2 separate regions of the Homo sapiens genome follow, and region 2 is linked to region 1. The links come from fine-mapping of genetic effects on gene expression. A gene starts in region 1. The other region holds a variant in brackets. All regions are shown on one strand. Distances are from middle to middle.

Region 1 (4,401 bases):
CTTTTACCCCAAGGTATCTAGAAAACTTATAGAAAGCCTCCTCAAAATGTTCATGTTTATGCCCAGGTTCAACATGTGAATCCTTCCATCACTTTCCTCTTTGAACACTCATGAGGGAATAGGGTCTTGTGCTCTCTGAAGATTCCTTTAGTCTTTGGCCTGCCCCCATGTCAGGTGGTAATCACCACTTTAAAACACTGAGATTAGTGCAGTAAAAAAGATTTATGAATATTAATTCTTTTTATAGCAGGTCATAATGTGAGCTAGAGAACAAACAGAGTATGGTTTCATTCCAACGCCTTACTGCAAAGAAGAATGGGGGTTGCACATTGTGGAAAATATTAGTTGGAGATGCTAGTTTGAAAACTAATTTATTGAGAATGGCTTTGGCCATAACTCGCCAGACACCCTGAATTTGTGGAGAATCTGTTCTAGAGAGTAAGGATCATGAATTTTATAAGCGTTGTATTGTTCACAATCAATAGCATTATCCAAAAAATTTTTAAAATATACTATTACAATGCAAACCCCAAAACACTACAGTGGCTCATATTAAGAAGAAAGATGATTCCTTTTCAAACTTTCTAGAGTTAGAGTTTACAAGGTTGAGTTTTCCCACTGGCTGGTCATTTCCCTACAACCCCATTATAGCCTTCACCTTTGCCCCTCCCTGAAATGATGTTTTCAGAAATCACTGGAGTATTCAATTCAGTAGCCTCTCCTTGCTGTCTTTGCAGTATTCTGACATCATTGACCCTTTCTTCCCTGACATTCTCTCTTCCTTTGACATCAGCAAGAAAAATCCTAGAAGGCTGTGTAACTGTAGTTAAGGGCACAGACTGGATTCAGCCGGGTTATCGGGGTTCCAATCTCAGCCCTATACTTAACTAGCTGTGGGACTTTGGACAAGTTAATTAACCTCATTGTCCTCATCTGTAAAGTGGGAGTAAGGGTAGTACTCACCTCTTGGAGTGGCTGTGTGTCCCCTGCCTGTTAACTTGGTCACCTTTGAGAATCAATGTTTAATTTTGATGCCCGAGCTAAGTCATTGGTTTTTCTCTTTAGAGTTTATGTTTTGGAGTCTTGATTAAGAAATCCTTTCCTATTCCAAAGTCATAAAGATATTATTTACACTTTCTTCATTAATTCTATACTTTTAACTTTCACATTTGATTCTTATTGCATATAGAGTTTATTTTTTATTTGAAGGGAAGTAGCAATTAAATTTTAATTTGCCATAGAGTGAGGTTATTTACCAAATAATCAGTTCTTTCTCTCATTGATTCGTGATGCCATTTTTGTAATATGCCAAGTTCCTGGAGGCACCCGGGAGTCCACATGAGTATTCTGATCTGCTACCTTTGTCTTCAGTCCTGCCCCTATTTTATTGCCATACTATCCTAATTACTACTGCTTTTTAATATTTCTTAATACCTGGCAGGAAGAATCTTCGTGCTCTTCTCTTTCAAAATATTATTTAATATCTACAGACCTTTATTTATCCATACATATTTTAGAATCTATTTTTTAAAAAAAACCTTGAAATTTAATTGGAATTGCATTAATTTTCAACTTAGTTTGAGAAATATTGATAACATTCTAATGTTGAATTACCCCAACCCTGGGCATGATCCTTATGTAGGCCTCCTTTTATGTCCTAGAATAAAATTTAACATTTTTCATAAAGATCCTGTGTAGTCTTTATTAAGTTAGCTAAGAGATAATCCCAGTTTAATTGATAATTCAAGGTAGAATTTTTTTTTCTCTCTTTTTTTGAGACGGAGTCTCACTCTGTTGCCCAGGCTGCAGTGCAGTGGCATGATCTTAGCTAACTGCAACCCCCATCTCCTGGGTTCAAGCTATTGTCCTGCCTCAGCCTCCCAAGTAGTTGGGATTACAGGTGCCACTACTACACCTGGCTAAGTATTTTTGTATTTTTTTTTAGTAGAGGCGAAGTTTCACCATGTTGGTCAGACTGGGCTTGAACTCCTGACTCAGGTGATCTGCCAGCCTCAGCCTCCCAAAGTGCTGGGATTATAGGCGTGAGCCACCGGACCCAGCCACAAGGTAGAAAATTTGACAATTCAAATTATCTTATACTTTTGAATAGAAATTTGCTTTAGTAGGTGCACATTAGTAGTGTTATTGATTTTTATTCTCTTATTGTTTTCCAAATTTTTTTTTTGTTTTTGTTTTTGTTTTTGTTTTGAGACAGAGTCTCACTGACTTTGTCACCCAGGCTGAAGTGCATTGGCATGATCTCATCTCACTGCAACGTTAGCCTTCCTGGTTCAGGCAATTCTCCTGCTTCAGCCTCCCTAGTAGCTGGGATTACAGGTGTGTGCCACCACTAACAGCTAATTTTTATATTTTTAGTAGAGACGGGGTCTCACCACATTGGCTGGGCTGGTCCCAAACTTCTGACCTCAAGTGATTCACCCATGTTGACCTCCCAAACTGCTGGGATTACAGGCATGAGCCACCGTGCAGCCCCAGATGTTTTGAATAATGGTTGTTATGGTGATAATTCTTTTCTTTGTCCTGACCTGAAAAAAAATAGTTCTAAAATCTTGTAAAGCGTATTCATTAAAATGATGTTTTCAATGAATTTTGATAGATAAACTTTATCAGATTACGGAAATTCCTTTATAGTCTAGTTTTCTAAAGTTTTTTTTTCCAGAAATGGATGTTGAACTTATTTTTGGCTTTTTTAATTTTTTAATTTTTAATTTTAACTTGTATGGGTATATAGTAGGTGTATATTTTTATGGGGAACATGAGATGTTTTGATACAGGTATGCAATGTGAAATAATCACATCGTATAAAATGGTTCATCCATCCCCTCAAGTATTTATCCTTTGTGTTACAAACAATCCAATTATACTCTTTTGGCTATTTTTAAATGTATAATTAAATTATTATTGACCATAGTCACTCTGTTGTGCTGTCAAATACTAGACCTTATACATTCTTTCTAACTATTAATATTTTTTGTACCCATTAACCATCCTCATCTCTCCATGTTGAAATTTACTGCATGCTTTCTCTATTACTATTGCAACCTTAAACTTTATTAGTCTATTAAAAAGAAGTTATATTGCTGGGTTTTCTTATTTTAAGCCATCCTTGAGTCATGGTCATTTTAATATACTTTCAGAAATAAATAGGATGTATTTTATTGAAGATTTAAAAAATTAAGTTTAGAAGCTGACTTGTGCTATTATTTTTGTCATGTACTTGTTTCGTGTGACTTGGCTGTTAGAATTATACTAGCCTCAGCCAGGCGCGGTGGCTCACCCCTGTAATCCTAGCACCTTGGGAAGCCAAGGCAGGTGGATTATCTGAGCTCAAGAGTTTGAGACCAGTCTGGGCAACACGGCAAAACCCCATCTCTACTAAAATACAAAAAATTAGCCGGGCGTGACGGTGTGCATGTGTAATCTCAGCTACTCGGGAGGCTGAGGCAGGAGAATTGCTAGAAGCTGGGAGGCAGAGGTGTCAGTGAGCTGAGATTGTCCCACTGCACTCCAGCCTGGGCAACAGAGTGAGACTCCATCTCAAAAAAAAAAAAAAAAAAAGAATTATACTAGCCTCACAAAATAATCTGTCCAGACTTCGTCATTTTTGACTTTTTGGGACAACATGTATAACAACTGCATATTCCTTACCTCATCTCTAAAACCCTCTATGCGTGTCATTTTGGAGTAGGAGCGAATTGATTATCACTTTAATTTCTTTAAATAATACAAGTTTATGTACATTTTAACATTTTTTATAAACATTGTTTTTTCTAGGTTTGCAAATATATTAGAATATGACTGATATTATTTAACTTGTCCCTATATTTATTCCGTATTCTTTATTTCATCTCCCTTTTTCCCTGTTTTTTGAAAAAAACTGTTACCAGAGAGGGTTATTTAGTAGTCATCTAAAAAGTCTGACTTTTGTGTGTTAAGATCTGTATTTGTTTATTGTTATACTCATCTCCATTTTATCGATTTATGCCTCTTCATATTGCCATATTTCTTATTTGGGGAGGCTTGCTCTATTTTCCTTTTTCTACCATCTTTAAATAACCACTTAGCTTATTAATTTTCAATCTTTATTTTGAGAATATATTCAAAGCTATAAACTGTCCTCTGAGAACTGTGTTAGCTACATCCCACAAATGCTGACATAAATGGCTTTCATTGTCATTAAGCAAGAAGTCTGCTGCAATTCCTCCTTTTGTTTTCTATTTTACCCACGGTCTACCTGGTAGTAGATTTTGTTTTGTTTTGCTTTTTCTTAGATTTCAGACACACTAATCTTTTTTTCAGTCAACTCTATTAATTTTAAATTGTATTACATTGAAGTTAGAGAATATTGTCTAGAATTCAGACAATAGGAATATACTGAGA
Region 2 (4,401 bases), 72 kb before region 1:
TTCATAAATGTCTTTTGTTATATTGAGGAACTTTCCTTCTATACCTAACCCATTAAGAGTTTTCAATCAAGAAATGATGGGCATTTCTTAAGATGACTTTGGCTGTGTTGTAGAGAATCCATTAGAATGAGCCCAAAGGTGGAATTTGGGAGACCAGACAGATTTTCAAAAGAGAGGTACTGGAGTGGTGGCTGTGGAGCTGTCCAGAAGGGCAAAGATCCAAGAGATATTTTGTAGGTTACATTGACAGGTTTACATGTGTTGGATATGGGACCAGTTCAAGAGTGACCCATTTTACAGATGGAAAATCAATGGACAGAGAGAGAGGCTGATTAACTCCCAAGGACACAAAACTGGTAAGAGAATCAATCTTTATTAGAGCAGTTGAAGAACTGTTGAGCAAGCACTTTTACTCTCTCTTTTGTGAGCATGAAGAAGAGGAAACAAAGAACCTTTGCTGAGGAAAATGGAACAAAATCTAAGAAGGAATAAATGTTCAATCATGGCTTTGCCAAGTGTGTAGAGGAAAGGGAAAGGGTCATTTTGGACAGAGGTAATTGCATATGAGCAAGCAAGAAAAGGAGGCTTTGAGAGGTGACAGAAACTCTATATCTTGATTGTGGTAGTAGTTACAGAAGTTCATGCATTCATTCAAATTCACTAAACTGCACTTAAAGTGGGTCCTTGTTAAAGTGCATATCTTGTGCCCAAATTTTGGTCTCTAATACCTTTGTCCACTTGAAAGAACCACAGTTTTTCAGAGAAATGGCTGATTCCAGGGCTGGAGCAGGAAGTAAAGAAGTGAGTTTTAAAAGGAAAGAAAAAGAAAGAGAAAGAAAGAAAAAGTGGGTATGTCACAAGGAAATAATAGCCAACTTGGAGGGGATCCCACTGGCCAAACTGGGAAAATTTGAGCACTAATATAATTAAAGATAGTAATAAATTATAGGCCATTGAGAAGAACAGGAAATCGTGAGTCCATACTAATAAAAACAATAAACATTTGGGAGAAAGGGGAGAGTCTTATCCACAAGAAGGCTGAATGTAGCTGGTAAATGTGGAAGAAGTGCTAGAAATGAAAATCTTCATTTTACATCTACCATAATAAAGTTTTGTTCAGGCAAGAATCATCAAAGGCTGCTAAATCCAGGGGGATATTTTAATGAGGTGCAGGATATTTGAATGGTCTCAAAGAATCTTCCCATAAATTGCTTATTAACTGCAAGAGAAATAGTAGTAAATACACAGGAAGAAATGGGATAGCACTTTGGGTAATCAACAGCAGCATCACCAATGGCCATTGTGTGCCCCCCAGATATCATTCTATCATTCTAGTTGTTCAATCCAATTGAAATCCAATTAAAATAGGATAAAAGCTAAAAATATCAAGAGAGAAGTCTCAAAAGAAAGAGGAAAATAAATGGCCAAGGGATTCGTTAAAAAGATGCTCACCCTGATAAGTGATCAGGAAAATGCAATCAAAGCAATGCAGTACTGATTTTTCTCAAACTGATATTTTTTCAATGATCAATGACACTTCATTTGGCAAGAACATGGAGAGAAGTAGGAACTTTCATACTGTTTGCATGATTGTCACTTGATAATATTTTTGGAGGACAATTTAGTGTTATTTTTCCACATTAAATATCCTTACCCTTAGACTGAACAATCTCAGGTCTGGGAATTGATCCCAAAATACATCTCTGATTGTAGGCACAAGGGCAGTTATTCCAGCTGATTGTAATAGAAAGCAATTAACAGCAGTATCAGTTATCTATTGCTGCATATCAAACCACTGCAAATGTAGCAGCTTAAAACAACACACACTTAGTATCTTTTTCTGTGGATTGAGCATCTGGGCAGAGCTTAGCTGGGTCCTCTGCTTAATGGTCTCTCACAGCACATGAAGATGTTGGCCAGGGCTGGGGACTCATCTGAGACTCGAATGGGGAAGGATCCACTTCCAAACTCATGGTTATTGGCAGAATTCAGTTACTTGTGGGCTTTTGGCCAGAGACTGCCCTTAGTTCCTTGCCACATGGGCCCTTCTGTAAACCAGCAAGAGAAGAGTCTGTTAGCAAGAGGCAAGTTACAATGTCTTGTACTCTAGTCACAGTAGTGACATCTTATCACTTTTGCTCCATTCTATTGATTAGAAGAAAGTCATGAGGCCAGCCCACTCTCAAGGGCAAGGGATTTCACAGGGGCATGAATACCAGGAGGTAGAGATCATGGGGAGGGGGTCATCT[T/G]AGAGCTTGCCCCCATGACAACCCAAATGTCCATTCAGAAGGACAAGGTTAAATAAATTATTATGGTAGCACCACACCATGGGAAACACTTCGGTCATTCATGAAGAATAACGTCAATTTAAGTGTGCACAGACTTGGCAAAATTTTCCAAACCTATTTCTCCCCAAGTCCCACTCCCCAAACCTATTGTTAAGTGAATAAAATAAGCAAAGCTAGTTTGCAGACAATGCACATATTGTGACACCATTTGTGTGGAAACACAATATTTTCCAAATGAAACATGTTTATGTGTACATATATATGCATTTATTACAAAGGAAAAAGCTTGGGAGGAGGTATATCTACTCTATTGATCATGGTTACCACTGGAAGCTGTGGGTTCAGGGTGGACGGAGGCATAATGGTCAACATTCTCATTTTATTCCTCATACTTATTGATTGTTTGGCTTTTGTTTTTTATTTTTTTACAGTGGGAGTATATTTATGTATTGTAGATTTTTTTTCTAAAATGAACTAAAACTGGGAAGCTGGGGCTTTCATCCAACAGTGTTAATTTTTGGAAGTGTAACATGTTATCCCTAAGTGTGTCCTGATTGTGCCTTTTTATTGTGCAGATTTTAACAGTTTGCTCGGTTTTCCATCCCAGCTTTATCTCAGATGTTTCCAACTACACTTGCAACAATGAGACCAATAAGGGCTTTGTTGTCCTAGACCCAAGAGCTGTTCTGGGAGTACCGGAGGAGGGCTGGGCTGTAGTGAGCTGGCAGCTGGATCCTATCGAGCACCCTTTTTTCCCAGACACAAAAGAAGAACCACAGTAGCCACCCAGAGTGGAGTCTGGTGCTGCGGGGCACTTCTGGGAGGTCACAGAAAGGGATGTGGGACAAAGAGTCCCTTTTTGTGGTGTGTCTTCTTGTTAGTTCCATGACCGACTTTGTCATCAGAAGATGAGCCCAGGCTCCCATGCTCCCATGATGGAGGTGCAGTTCAGGAGCAACCGCTCACTGGTGACCTTGGGTGGGCTGCCTCATCCCTCTGTGCCCCAGTGGCCTCCTCTGTAAAATGGTGATGTCCGTCCTATCACTCTTATGGGTTTGCTGTGAGGATTAAATGTGCTGATACAACTGAAGCACTTGGCTTAGTGCCCAGAACATATTAAGCACTCTCAGGAAGGTGAAGATCTGCTGCCATGCAGATGTTGTCTATTGTTACTAACAAAATTAGCATTTACTAAATCCTTACCGGTTCCTCTCCCCAGCTCTGTGATAACTGCTTTACATGCGTGGTCTCATTGAATCCACCCTAACTTCCGGTGTTAATTTTCCCATTTTACAGACAGGAACTCTGAGGCTCAGAGAAAGTCAGTTAGCCTCCCAAGTTCATAAGCTGGGAAGTGATGGTGCCAAGGTTTGAACTTGGGTCTGTCTGCAAAGCTTCTGCTCTTCACAATCATGCTTTATTGCTTTGTGGGCCTTAACACTCACATTATTTTGCTCTCATGATAATGAGAAAGCTTCAGGCACCAGAGGACTTGGGAACAGAATAGTGTACTTAGGAGAGGACTAGCTGGGATTTGCTGTGTAAAGATATGACAGAAACATGAGGATAAATGGTTGAGTGAAGAGTCAGTGTGGGAAACGGTCCAGAACTTTCTCAAAAACCAGTCCATCAAGGAGATCAAAATTAAACAAAGATAAATTGGATTTGACTTCCACAGTAATTCGCCTGATATGTGTATGTTTGTATACAATCTTTGTACTTAACAGAGACCACTCATTCTTGTCACACACATGGAATTTACAAAAATTGACCAAAACTTCCCTTTTCTATGGTGGCGTACTTAAAGGCACTGCCACAGAACTACAAGACTTCAGGGAGAATCATTCAGAAAGAGCTTTCTAGAATGCCTGTTATGGCCCATATGAGCTTCTAGATATGTTATATGGTTTGGCAGTGTCCCCACCCAAATTTCATCTTGAATTGTAGTTCCTATCATTGCCATGTGTTGTGGGAGGGACCCGGTGGGAGGTAATTGAATCATGGGTGTGGTTTCCCCATGCTGTTCACATGATAGTGTGTGAGTCTCATGAGATCTGGTGGTTTCTTAAGTGCCTAGCATTTTTCCCCTGCTGGCACTCATTCTCTCTCCTAC

Which allele goes with the higher level. Positions count from the first base shown, and alleles are read on the strand shown. Sizes are in standard deviations (SD) of each study's normalised expression.
In carriers of allele T in region 2, the expression in skin of the gene that starts at base 2,507 in region 1 tends to be higher than with G alone (small effect, 0.38 SD a copy in TwinsUK).

The links. PIP is the estimated chance that this variant, and not a neighbour inherited with it, causes the effect. A credible set is the group of variants that fine-mapping cannot tell apart.
Region 2: its variant is the best candidate, but not a certain one, in a credible set for the expression of LINC02030 in skin (TwinsUK, PIP 0.76).

Annotation. Positions count from the first base shown.
Region 1 is chr3:55,224,961-55,229,361 of GRCh38, reverse strand. It overlaps LINC02030 (long intergenic non-protein coding RNA 2030), which reads right to left and starts at 2,507. Exons shown (of 6, transcript NR_183750.1): 1 at 2,394-2,507. All of the region lies in intron 2 of LOC124906243 (a long non-coding RNA gene), which reads left to right.
Region 2 is chr3:55,296,901-55,301,301 of GRCh38, reverse strand. LINC02030 (long intergenic non-protein coding RNA 2030) reads right to left here. Exons shown (of 6, transcript NR_183750.1): 6 at 355-2,048. The region is part of intron 1 of LOC124906243 (a long non-coding RNA gene); the gene reads left to right. Among named protein-coding and RNA genes, the nearest start is that of LINC02030, 72 kb to the right of the region's middle. The variant T/G (reference allele first, on the strand shown) is at 2,250.